Homo sapiens: one gene and its partners. The protein of the gene in region 2 interacts with the protein of the main gene of each other region in a biochemical or structural test. Each region holds a gene or a part of one and is shown on either strand. Other genes may lie near its edges. The genes, in order: TDRD7, TACC1 and CKAP5.

Region 1 (3,754 bases), on a different chromosome or scaffold from region 2:
ATGGGGATTAGGTTTCAACATGAATTTTGTAGGGACACAAACATTCAGACCATAGCAAAGTCTATTAAAAATCCACTGCAATGTTTGGAGTAGACTGGAAGGGAAAGAACAGAAAGACATCTGAAATAGACTGAAATAGAGCAAAGGAGATGCAGAGAAATTCCAGAGAGAGACATTTAGGCAAACTTAGTCAGGGACCAGATCTAGGATATGAAAGAGAACAGTGTTCAAAGAAAAGCCCTGTTCAAAAACTCTGAACAATTCCCTACCGCCTTTGGGGAAACATCCAAGTGTCTGAGAGCTGGATATCAGGTTTTCCAGATTTACTTCCAATTTTTCTTTGTATTGCCTACTGCATCTTTTCACTGAATCAAAAGCTCTATAAGCACAGGCTTATCCATGAAAATTTGTTATTTAACAGCAGGTGTTCAATATATATTAGTTGATTGTCCATTCACCTTCTGACGGATGTTTGTATTCTTTCCATGTGGGGCTACGGCCAACACAACTGCCATGAGCACTCTTGTACAGGTTTTTGTGTGGACATCTGCTTTCATTTCTCCTGGGTAAATACCCAGGAGCAGAATTGCTGGGTTGCGTGGTAGGTTTGGTACATCCCTACAATACCATTCAGCAATAGAAAGACATGAACTATTGATACATGTAACAACATGGATGAACATAATTTGCTAAATAAAAGAAGCCAGGCAGCCCCCCAAAGGATAGTACATACGATTCCATACATAAAAGTTTTACATATAACTCTAGAAAAAGCAAAATAATCTATAGCAACAGAAAGCAGGTGAGCAGTTGAGGGGGCAAGTGACAGGGAGGGACAAGATATAAGAATTACAAAGGATCACAGTAAAACTTTTTTGGGTGATGGATATGTTCATGATTTTGATTGCAGTGATGGTCTCACAGTGATATATATATATCAAAACTTATCAAACTGTACATTTTAAACATTCAGTTTATTGTATGTCTTATACATGGCAGTCAAGCTGTAATAAAATACCGGTTGAATAAGCAGCAGGTTCTCAGTAAATGCATAATTTATCAAGCTGTACATTTTAAACGTTCAGTTTATTGTATGTCTTATACATGGCAGTCAAGCTGTAATAAAATACCGGTTGAATAAGCAGCAGGTTCTCAGTAAATGCATAATTTATCAAGCTGTACATTTTAAACGTTCAGTTTATTGTATGTCTTATACATGGCAGTCAAGCTGTAATAAAATACCGGTTGAATAAGCAGCAGGTTCTCAGTAAATGCATATCCAATGGTGCAGAGAAGTGTTCAATGTTGGCTGCAGGGATGCAAAGCAGGTGCCAATAAGTGTTGGTGGAATTAATGTGCAGAATAAATAAGTATTCACTTATTAGGTGTTCAATAACTTTAGAGTGAATGAATAAATTTGACAGATATTTATTGCTGATCGTGTGCTAGGCACTATCCTAGGCTCTGGGAATAGGTTAAGGAACCAAACAAAAATCCTTGTGCTCACAGAGCTTTAATTTTAGAAGGATAGCAGACAATAAAAGCATAAGTAAAATACATATAGTGTGCTAGATAGGTGCTAAGGAGAAATAAGGTTGAGAATGGGGATAGGGAAAGTCAAGGAAGGAGGTTGACATGTTAGAGACTGTGTCCACCGTCATTGAAAGGGTAATGCTTGAGAAAGGCCTGAAGGATATGGGCGGACAGAGTGTGTGTCTAGGGCAATAAAAAGTAACTGCTCCAGATGTTGAAGAAAATAATGTGCAGGAGTTGAACTGTTTGGAAGGAGGGTGAGCCCCATAGAAGGAGCCACCCTCGCCCCCTGCTGAGTCCCGGCTCGCTCGGCCCGCGCGTACCTGCGTTGTCCACCAGGAGGCGCTCCCGCACCCGCCCCGCAGGCGTCTTCCGCCGCCGGCCGGTGCGTGGGCACGCGCAGAAACCGCTAGGTGGCGACGGTTTCCCTTCCCACGCGCGGACGCCGGCGTGGGCCGACGCGGCCGGAGCGCCCGCGCGTGCGCAGAGCCGAGGCCAGGCTGCCCTCGAAGCGGGGCGGGGCGAAGCGGGGCGGGGCCGAGCAGGGCGGGGCGGGGGCTTGAGGTGATTCCCAAGCCGCGGGGCGGCTCCGGTGGTGCGGGGAAACCGAAAGTGGGCGGCGGCCGCGGCGGGGCCCCTGGCGGAGACGGCGGCAGGAGCTGGGCCCAGAGACGCGGGGACGGGCCGTGGGCCCCCGGAACGAGGTGAGTGCAGGTCCTGCGGGCTCCGGGCGCGACAGGTGCCGGGCGACGTCGGACGAGATTTCGGGCGGGCGCGGCGCACCTGGGTCACCGGTGGGACCGCGGCCAGGGCCGGGGGCTCCAACAGGCTCGGGGCCTTTTCCCTGCAGCCGCAGGGGATTGCCCCCGCCCCGACGCCTGGGAACCGGGCTGGGCGCCGGGGGAGTTGGAGTTCCAGAGCGTTGTGTTTTAAATCTCTGAAGGGACCCTGCTCCGGGCCGGGCGTTCACGCGGGAGTCGGACGGAGCCTCCTGCCGCCTCGGAAGCTCTGCGCCGTGGGGGAAATGCAGCAGCGGGGTGTGGACGCGGGCGGGAGATGCGGACCAGGAAGTGGTTCCCGCTACCGGCGCGACAGGCCGCAGCCGCCGCCCCCAGCGAGGGATGTCCGCGCTCCCCTATTTGAACCCAAGTATTTTACACCACGAACTTCTCTTGAAGGTCTCTATAATCTGGAGACGAGCCCCAGGCAGGCCGCTTAAGTAATGCAGGACACACATCCCCATTTCTCTCAAACGAGGAGCACCCAGTGGGTACAGAGCACCCAGCTGGGAGGGAAACATGGATCCGTGAGTAAGTTGTCTCTCAACTTTCAGTAGCATCCCCTCAGCAGGGTCAGACTCTCAGCTTCAGCTTGCTAGGAGGGAGCTTGGAGCCGGCATATCTTTCTGCTCCCATTCACTTGAGAGGTATATTTCCATTAATAGCTAAAGGTACCATTCTCAAATAATTTCTAAGAGCAGGGAAGGGAAACAACCACATTAGAACAAGTCCTGGCCCAGAAGAATTCTGATCACCGCCCATCCAAACCAAACCAAACCAAAAAACCACAGATCTAGTTCATTAACCCTCCTACCAACACCTCTCTGCTCTCCAATCGTGCCGGTGAAAAAAATGCAGAGAAATGTTCTCTCTAGAGAGATAGGCAACAGCTTAATAGCAGAAGTAAAACTTGGACCCAAATCCCTGTCTCGTCCTGGGCTGCCTTGATGTGTATGAATGTGTTGCATACTGCAAATAATGTGAACTTTGCAGACCTGGATTGAAATCTGGGCTTCTCATTTTACAAATTGTGTGATCTTGAACAAATTACATGCTTTCTCTTAGCCTGGTTTTCTATGTGTCAAATAGAGGTACCTGGCTTACTTTGCAAGGCTTTTCCAAGATAACCACTGTATATCCTTTGCCTCATAATAATTGCCAAGCAGTATTCACTCTCTTCCTCCCAACAAACGGTCCATGTTTTACATAATTGGATTTTAGTTTTTTGAGGGCAGGGACACAAAGATCTTTGTGTTTACTATATAATATAAATGGGCACATGGTGGATATTTTTGCATTTCCTCTCAGCTGACATTCATTGAGCATCAGTTACGTGCAAAGTACTGTTCTGGGTATAGGGAATTGCCCCTGGGGCCAGCTGGATTAGCACTCACATCTCCTGTGCCCCAATCCAGGGCCCTTTGGTGGCACACAGCCTCCGT
Region 2 (3,754 bases):
AGCCTGGGGAAGTCAAGGCTGCAGTGAGCCATGATCAGGCCACTGCACTCCAGCCTGGGTAACAGAGACACTGTGTCAAGAAAAACAAAAATAAAAACTATAGCTATGATATTCCAGTGGTACTTGACTCTGATCCTGGATTAGGATTAGGAAGTAGGATTAGAGGGTCATCTTTTAATTTCCTTTAAAATCATGAGATATTATAACCAATTCACTGAGTTTTTCTGTGCTACTCTTGTTTCAGATATCTACGTTAGGAAATCACTTTTTGCTTTAACGAAATTACCTCATTCACACCTTCCTAATATTTGCAGCACTTATCCTAGTAAGACCACAATTAAAAAGGATTTTTATTTTTCACAAGTGATTTAGAGAATTCCTGGTCCGACTTAGAGACAGAGGTTCTAAAGAAAAAATAACTTTATTGTTTTACAATTTGTGTCTTAGTAAAATAAGGGCTATTTGTTTTAAAGCCATTTCCATATCTGGTTTTTCAAATTAGCTTTCTTATTTGGTTCTTTTAGTTTTTAGGTCTACAGAGAGATGATTCTGAGCTGGTCACAGTAGATTTTTTAAATTTATTTTTGAAACAGTCTTTTTAAATTCTGTTCTGTGGATACATGGCTTTTTTTTTTTCTTCTTTTTTTTTTCTTTGAGACAGAGTCTAGGCTGGAATGCAGTGGCGCAATCTCGGCTCACTGCAGCCTCCATCTCCCGGGTTCAAGTGATTCTCCTGCCTCAGCCTCCTGAGTGACTGGGACTACAGGCGTGTGCCACCATGTCTAGCTAATTTTTGTATTTTTAGTAGAGATGGGGTTTCACCATGTTGGCCAGGATGGTCTCAATCTCTTGACCTCATGATGTGCCCGTCTTGGCCTCCCAAGATACTTATGTTTTTAACATTCAAAGATTCAGATCTGTTCACTGCATAAAGTTCTGACCCTGAAGCTGTCAGGCTGTGCTTAGGAACTGTCTCAGCACCAATCTGCCTCCCTGCACCATAGCTGTTGGTTTCTAAATACTCCTCCAGACCAGTTTTACCCTACAGAATGTTAACATCACATAATAATACATTGCAGCAGACTCTTGCTCTATTTATCCTTTTTCTAAATAGCTCTTTTGGTGTACTTACTATTCGTATCACTTGGATAATGCACATACACAACTTGGGATAGGAAAATTCATTTTAGGGTGTTGTGCCAGCTCTTCTCTTTCAGGCTGTGCTGCCATCCTTCCTGAACTTTAGAGATGCTTAATAAAAGCAAAGAGGGAAGAACTTGCTATTTGTTTATATGAATTCAGGTAAGAGAGGATACTTACCAGTGACAGATAATTCTTTAATAGATGGTTTTTGTGTTTCATTTTAGAATCACAAGAAGCTGATGAACAGCTTGTAGCAGAAGTGGTTGAAAAATGTTCATCTAAGACTTGTTCTAAACCTTCAGAAAATGAAGTGCCACAGCAGGCCATTGACTCTCACTCAGTCAAGAATTTCAGAGAAGAACCTGAACATGATTTTAGCAAAATTTCCATCGTGAGGCCATTTTCAATAGAAACGAAGGATTCCACGGATATCTCGGCAGTCCTCGGAACAAAAGCAGCTCATGGCTGTGTAACTGCAGTCTCAGGCAAGGCTCTGCCTTCCAGCCCGCCAGACGCCCTCCAGGACGAGGCGATGACAGAAGGCAGCATGGGGGTCACCCTCGAGGCCTCCGCAGAAGCTGATCTAAAAGCTGGCAACTCCTGTCCAGAGCTTGTGCCCAGCAGAAGAAGCAAGCTGAGAAAGCCCAAGCCTGTCCCCCTGAGGAAGAAAGCAATTGGAGGAGAGTTCTCAGACACCAACGCTGCTGTGGAGGGCACACCTCTCCCCAAGGCATCCTATCACTTCAGTCCTGAAGAGTTGGATGAGAACACAAGTCCTTTGCTAGGAGATGCCAGGTTCCAGAAGTCTCCCCCTGACCTTAAAGAAACTCCCGGCACTCTCAGTAGTGACACCAACGACTCAGGGGTTGAGCTGGGGGAGGAGTCGAGGAGCTCACCTCTCAAGCTTGAGTTTGATTTCACAGAAGATACAGGAAACATAGAGGCCAGGAAAGCCCTTCCAAGGAAGCTTGGCAGGAAACTGGGTAGCACACTGACTCCCAAGATACAAAAAGATGGCATCAGTAAGTCAGCAGGTTTAGAACAGCCTACAGACCCAGTGGCACGAGACGGGCCTCTCTCCCAAACATCTTCCAAGCCAGATCCTAGTCAGTGGGAAAGCCCCAGCTTCAACCCCTTTGGGAGCCACTCTGTTCTGCAGAACTCCCCACCCCTCTCTTCTGAGGGCTCCTACCACTTTGACCCAGATAACTTTGACGAATCCATGGATCCCTTTAAACCAACTACGACCTTAACAAGCAGTGACTTTTGTTCTCCCACTGGTAATCACGTTAATGAAATCTTAGAATCACCCAAGAAGGCAAAGTCGCGTTTAATAACGTGAGTGACAGTGGGCGCTGGGTGTCGTGCTCTGTGTCTTGTCTGTTGAGTTTGGCAGCCAGCTACTTTTGGCTTTGGTGAACTGAATTTACCTTTGAGGTGCACCGAGGTTCATACAAAGCTTATAATGTTATCCTGCAGTCTTCACTGTTTGGCTTAACTGTTGTGTGGAATCAGAAATACCAGAGGTTTCCTTTTCAGATTGTTGTCTTTTTTCTGAATCCTTAGCTTAATCAGCTAAGCTCTTTTCCCTTGACCCTAGAGACTTTTTTATGTTTAAAAAAAATAGACCAGTCACGGTGGCTCACACCTGTAATCCCAGCACTTTGGGAGGCCGAGGCAGGTGGATCACTTGAGGTCCAGAGTTTGAGACCAGTCTGACCAACATGGTGAAACCTGTCTCTACTAAAAATGCAAAAATTAGCTGGGCGTGGTGGTGCACACCTGTAGTCCCAGCCACCCGGGAGGCTGAGACATGAGAATTGCTTGAACCCAGGAGGCAGAGGTTGCAGTGAGCCGAGATCACGCCGCTGCTCTCCAGCCTGGGTGACAGCAAGACTCCATCTCAAAAAAAAAAAAAGAATGGCATGAGATAGACAGGTAGAGATTTGATGGTTTTCAGAAATCCTGGCTGGACTGTTAGGAGTCGTGTTATAGACAATTCAAATGTCACTGCTGGCCACCGTCTTCATACTCTATGGATAAAACAGAAATTCCAGTCCTGTAACTTACCTCTGTAGCGTCAATAACGTGGGAAATGATCCAAAAGGGTCTTGTAGAAAGAAGACTTTTTACATAAACAGAAAGCTGTGATTTTTGTGGGAAACAAACCTACCACTAAAATTGATGAGAATTCTTGTCTCCATGTGTAATTTCTGGCTCATCAGCCAGGAGGTAAAATTTCAATAAGAATCAAGAATATTTTAAATGATCAGTTAAAACTGAGTAAATTAGTTGGTTTAGTCAATCCCCCATCTCTCCTGGGAAATTATCTGACTTTTGCAAGGTCCTTGGTGTTTTCAGTGTAATTACCTAAGGTCCTATTCCATATCAAGTTTCAGTTTAACTTTGCTACAGGATTACTTTATCACAAAACTTGAGTAGATGATAATACAATCATACATCACTTAGCCACAGGGTAAGCCACAGGGAAATGCATCCTTAGGTGATTTTGTTGTGTGAACATCGTCAAGTGAACTTACTCAAACCTAGGTGGTGAAACCTACTACACACCTAGGCTATATGGTACAGCCTGTTACTCCTAGGCTACAAC
Region 3 (2,887 bases), on a different chromosome or scaffold from region 2:
ATCTCATATTGCTGGCTTTTACATAATTCTTCATTCATTTTTCACCCCCTCAGAGGATTCTCCTCATCTTTACATTAAAGGAGTCCTTTTTCCCTGGAGTAACCTTTCTACTTTTCTATTTACCATAAGGCAGTGTTTCCTCCCAGTACCTTACCTTTGGGGCCTGTGGAATGCATTTGCATTGATACCAAGTGAAATATTTTAAAGGCCCGCATTGTATCATTGTTCATTCTCAGAAATTTAGGAAGTGTGATGGATTTTTTGTTGTTTTGGTTTTCCTCTCTCCTGCCAGAATATTGATCTTAGTGGTAGGGTTACAGACACTCCAGTTCTATGCCCTCTTTAGATAATTGTTGGACACCTTCTCTTCCCCATGAATACACCATAGCCTTGGACACCTTGCTTCCTTCACAGGTTCAAATGAGTTTCTCCTATGTGACATTGGTCCAAACTTAATCTAATTCTTCCAAACATTTAAGGTCCTCGGGTTTTTCAGTTGGGCAATTACAGTATGCTTAGGAGTAGCTTCAGCTTTTTGGATTGCCCAAGTCAGCCCTGGGATTACTGGAGTACAATCCCCTGCATAACCCAGGATGCAGATGGATGACCCAATTTACATTCTGCCTTTCTATATCAGTTTTTTGCATTCTCAAGAAGCTTATATTGTATATTTCAGAGCACCCTTATCACCAACTCCAGGTAGATTCTTGTGGAATTTGTCGTTTTCAAGTATAGGAAATTCTTAATTGTTCTTTTTGGTGGGAGATTAACCAAGGCACTTTAGAAGGGGGATATGTGGATATCTGAATATTCTTTCTACTTTTTCCCCTCTAGGCATCTCCCCTCAGATGGAAGTCACATGTGTGCCCACGCCCACAAGCACAGTGTCCTCCATAGGTAACACAAATGGGGAAGAAGTGGGGCCATCTGTCTACTTGGAAAGGCTAAAGATCCTCCGACAGCGATGTGGTCTGGACAACACAAAGGTACTGCTCCTTTTCTTCTGTGCAGTTCAGGGAGGGTAGTCACAAGCAGGTCCGAGGCAGGCTGGCCCACAGAGAAGTGGCTTAGTCTTGCTGTAGTTCTGGAGCTGCATCTTGACCTGCTTGACCTGACCTTAGACAATCTCTCTCCTTCTCTCAATAGCAAGATGACCGACCTCCTTTGACCTCTTTGCTCTCCAAACCAGCAGTTCCTACTGTCGCCTCTTCCACAGACATGCTCCACAGCAAACTCTCTCAGCTCCGGGAGTCACGGGAGCAGCACCAGCATTCAGACCTGGATTCTAACCAGACTCACTCTTCAGGAACTGTGACCTCCTCCTCCTCCACAGCTAACATAGACGACTTGAAAAAAAGACTGGAGAGAATAAAGAGCAGTCGCAAATGAAGCTGCCCCACTCCCCCGGCACCCTGCAGCTTTAGTTTACTAAACTAGAAGTCCTCATAGTTTAAAATGGCCTCAGCAGGCCTAGTGTATACAAACTGGTTGTATGTATCATGCCGTGGAGCTAGGGGGAGGAGTCATTGTGGCACAAGTATTTGTACATACTCTGCTTCTCTCTGTCAGCGTCCTGCTGCTCTAGAAGACTGTCCGTGGATGAGTTTAGTGTACAGACTTGTAAACAGCTGCCCCCTCTCTGCTCAGTCTAGTTCCCAGATCCTTTTCTTTTCTTTTTAATTGCTCATTTGTAAAATTGTCCTAATCTTTCCTAGCTTTTTAATAGTTAATATTAGAAACTCTTTAATAGTTTTCCTTTCAGTTTGTGAGCTCTTCTCTGTCGCCCTGAAGGGTCACTGTATTCTGTATGAATGCATGGCATGATACAACTAATTTAAGAGTCTTTTATAAATAAAGTTTGCATTAACTATACCTGACTCCCAAGATGCTCCATATCATGGAGTGTTGGGCAGCAATTTTTTAACTTTTGGTACCAGCTGGGTATTCAGCCAGTTAGAGAAAGGTTAATTACTGCTTACAGAGCTTCCCTTTTTCTTGGCTCACAGACTTGGAGCTGTCTTTTATTCCTTTGGAATGGAAGGAACTCTCCTTCCCTGCTCTCCACAAACAGCTCCTAGGGAGCAGAAAAATCTCATCCTTCCTTGTTTTGAGATTTTGGTCATGATTTCCCTCCAATTATCACCAGTCGTTTCAAGAAGCTCTTGGGCATCCTACCACTTTGCTGACCAAAGGCACACAAGATTGCGCCCAGAGATTGGCTGGGCTTCAGTGGTTCTCACACTACAACTAGATTTGTGTTCATTTGACTAATGGAGTTTGGGAAATCTTAGTGGTTTGCTGCTTGGTTGTATGAGTCTCTTTTGGTCCAGGCTAACAGTTGCTTCACATTCAGTCAGAGTAAGGATGAGAAAGTGAGCTGAGTATTCACCTCTGGAATAAATTCCACAGGACCTCCCTCCACAGTCAGAAAAACTCTTCAGGATGAAAAGGTTCTGGATTCAGGAGGAGATTTTGGGCAGTTATAAAGTTCAAAGGAACTTTCCTATTGTAGCCCACCTTCAATTCAATTGATGTCCAAGAAATGAAAGATTGATGGAAGATTAATCCTGTAAAGGTTCCAGTCATCGTTTTCAGGTGGCCCCGGAGCCTCCTGAAATTAAACTTGTCTCTCCTTTATAGTGGGAACATGGGAGTGGGTATTTGTTCACTGAAGGGATGATGGAGGCGTTTGCTGCTATAGTGGAAAGACATATTTAGAAAGAATGGCTACAAAGGCTGGGCCTGGTGGCTCACTCATACAACCGTAGCATTTTGGGAGGCTAAGGTGGGTGAATCACTTGAGCCCAGGAGTTCAAGACCAACATGGGCAACATGGCTCTACCAAAAAAATACAAAAATTAGCTGGGTATAGTGGCTCAAGCCTGTA

Evidence for each region.
Region 1: the proteins of TACC1 (region 2) and TDRD7 form a complex in vitro, tested with the Homo sapiens proteins (one study listed by BioGRID).
Region 3: the proteins of TACC1 (region 2) and CKAP5 form a complex in vitro, tested with the Homo sapiens proteins (one study listed by BioGRID and IntAct).

The regions. Positions count from the first base shown.
Region 1 is NC_000009.12:97,410,002-97,413,755, forward strand, and holds the start of TDRD7 (tudor domain-containing protein 7), read left to right. Parts: upstream 1-2,094; 5' UTR 2,095-2,237; intron 2,238-2,759; exon of another isoform or gene 2,760-2,843; intron 2,844-3,754. UniProt on the Homo sapiens protein: Component of specific cytoplasmic RNA granules involved in post-transcriptional regulation of specific genes: probably acts by binding to specific mRNAs and regulating their translation.
Region 2 is NC_000008.11:38,818,155-38,821,908, forward strand, and holds part of TACC1 (transforming acidic coiled-coil-containing protein 1), read left to right. Parts: intron 1-1,367; coding exon 1,368-2,481; intron 2,482-3,754. UniProt on the Homo sapiens protein: Involved in transcription regulation induced by nuclear receptors, including in T3 thyroid hormone and all-trans retinoic acid pathways. Might promote the nuclear localization of the receptors.
Region 3 is NC_000011.10:46,742,525-46,745,411, reverse strand, and holds the end of CKAP5 (cytoskeleton-associated protein 5), read left to right. Parts: intron 1-834; coding exon 835-986; intron 987-1,146; coding exon 1,147-1,389; 3' UTR 1,390-2,364; downstream 2,365-2,887. UniProt on the Homo sapiens protein: Binds to the plus end of microtubules and regulates microtubule dynamics and microtubule organization. Acts as a processive microtubule polymerase. Promotes cytoplasmic microtubule nucleation and elongation. Plays a major role in organizing spindle poles.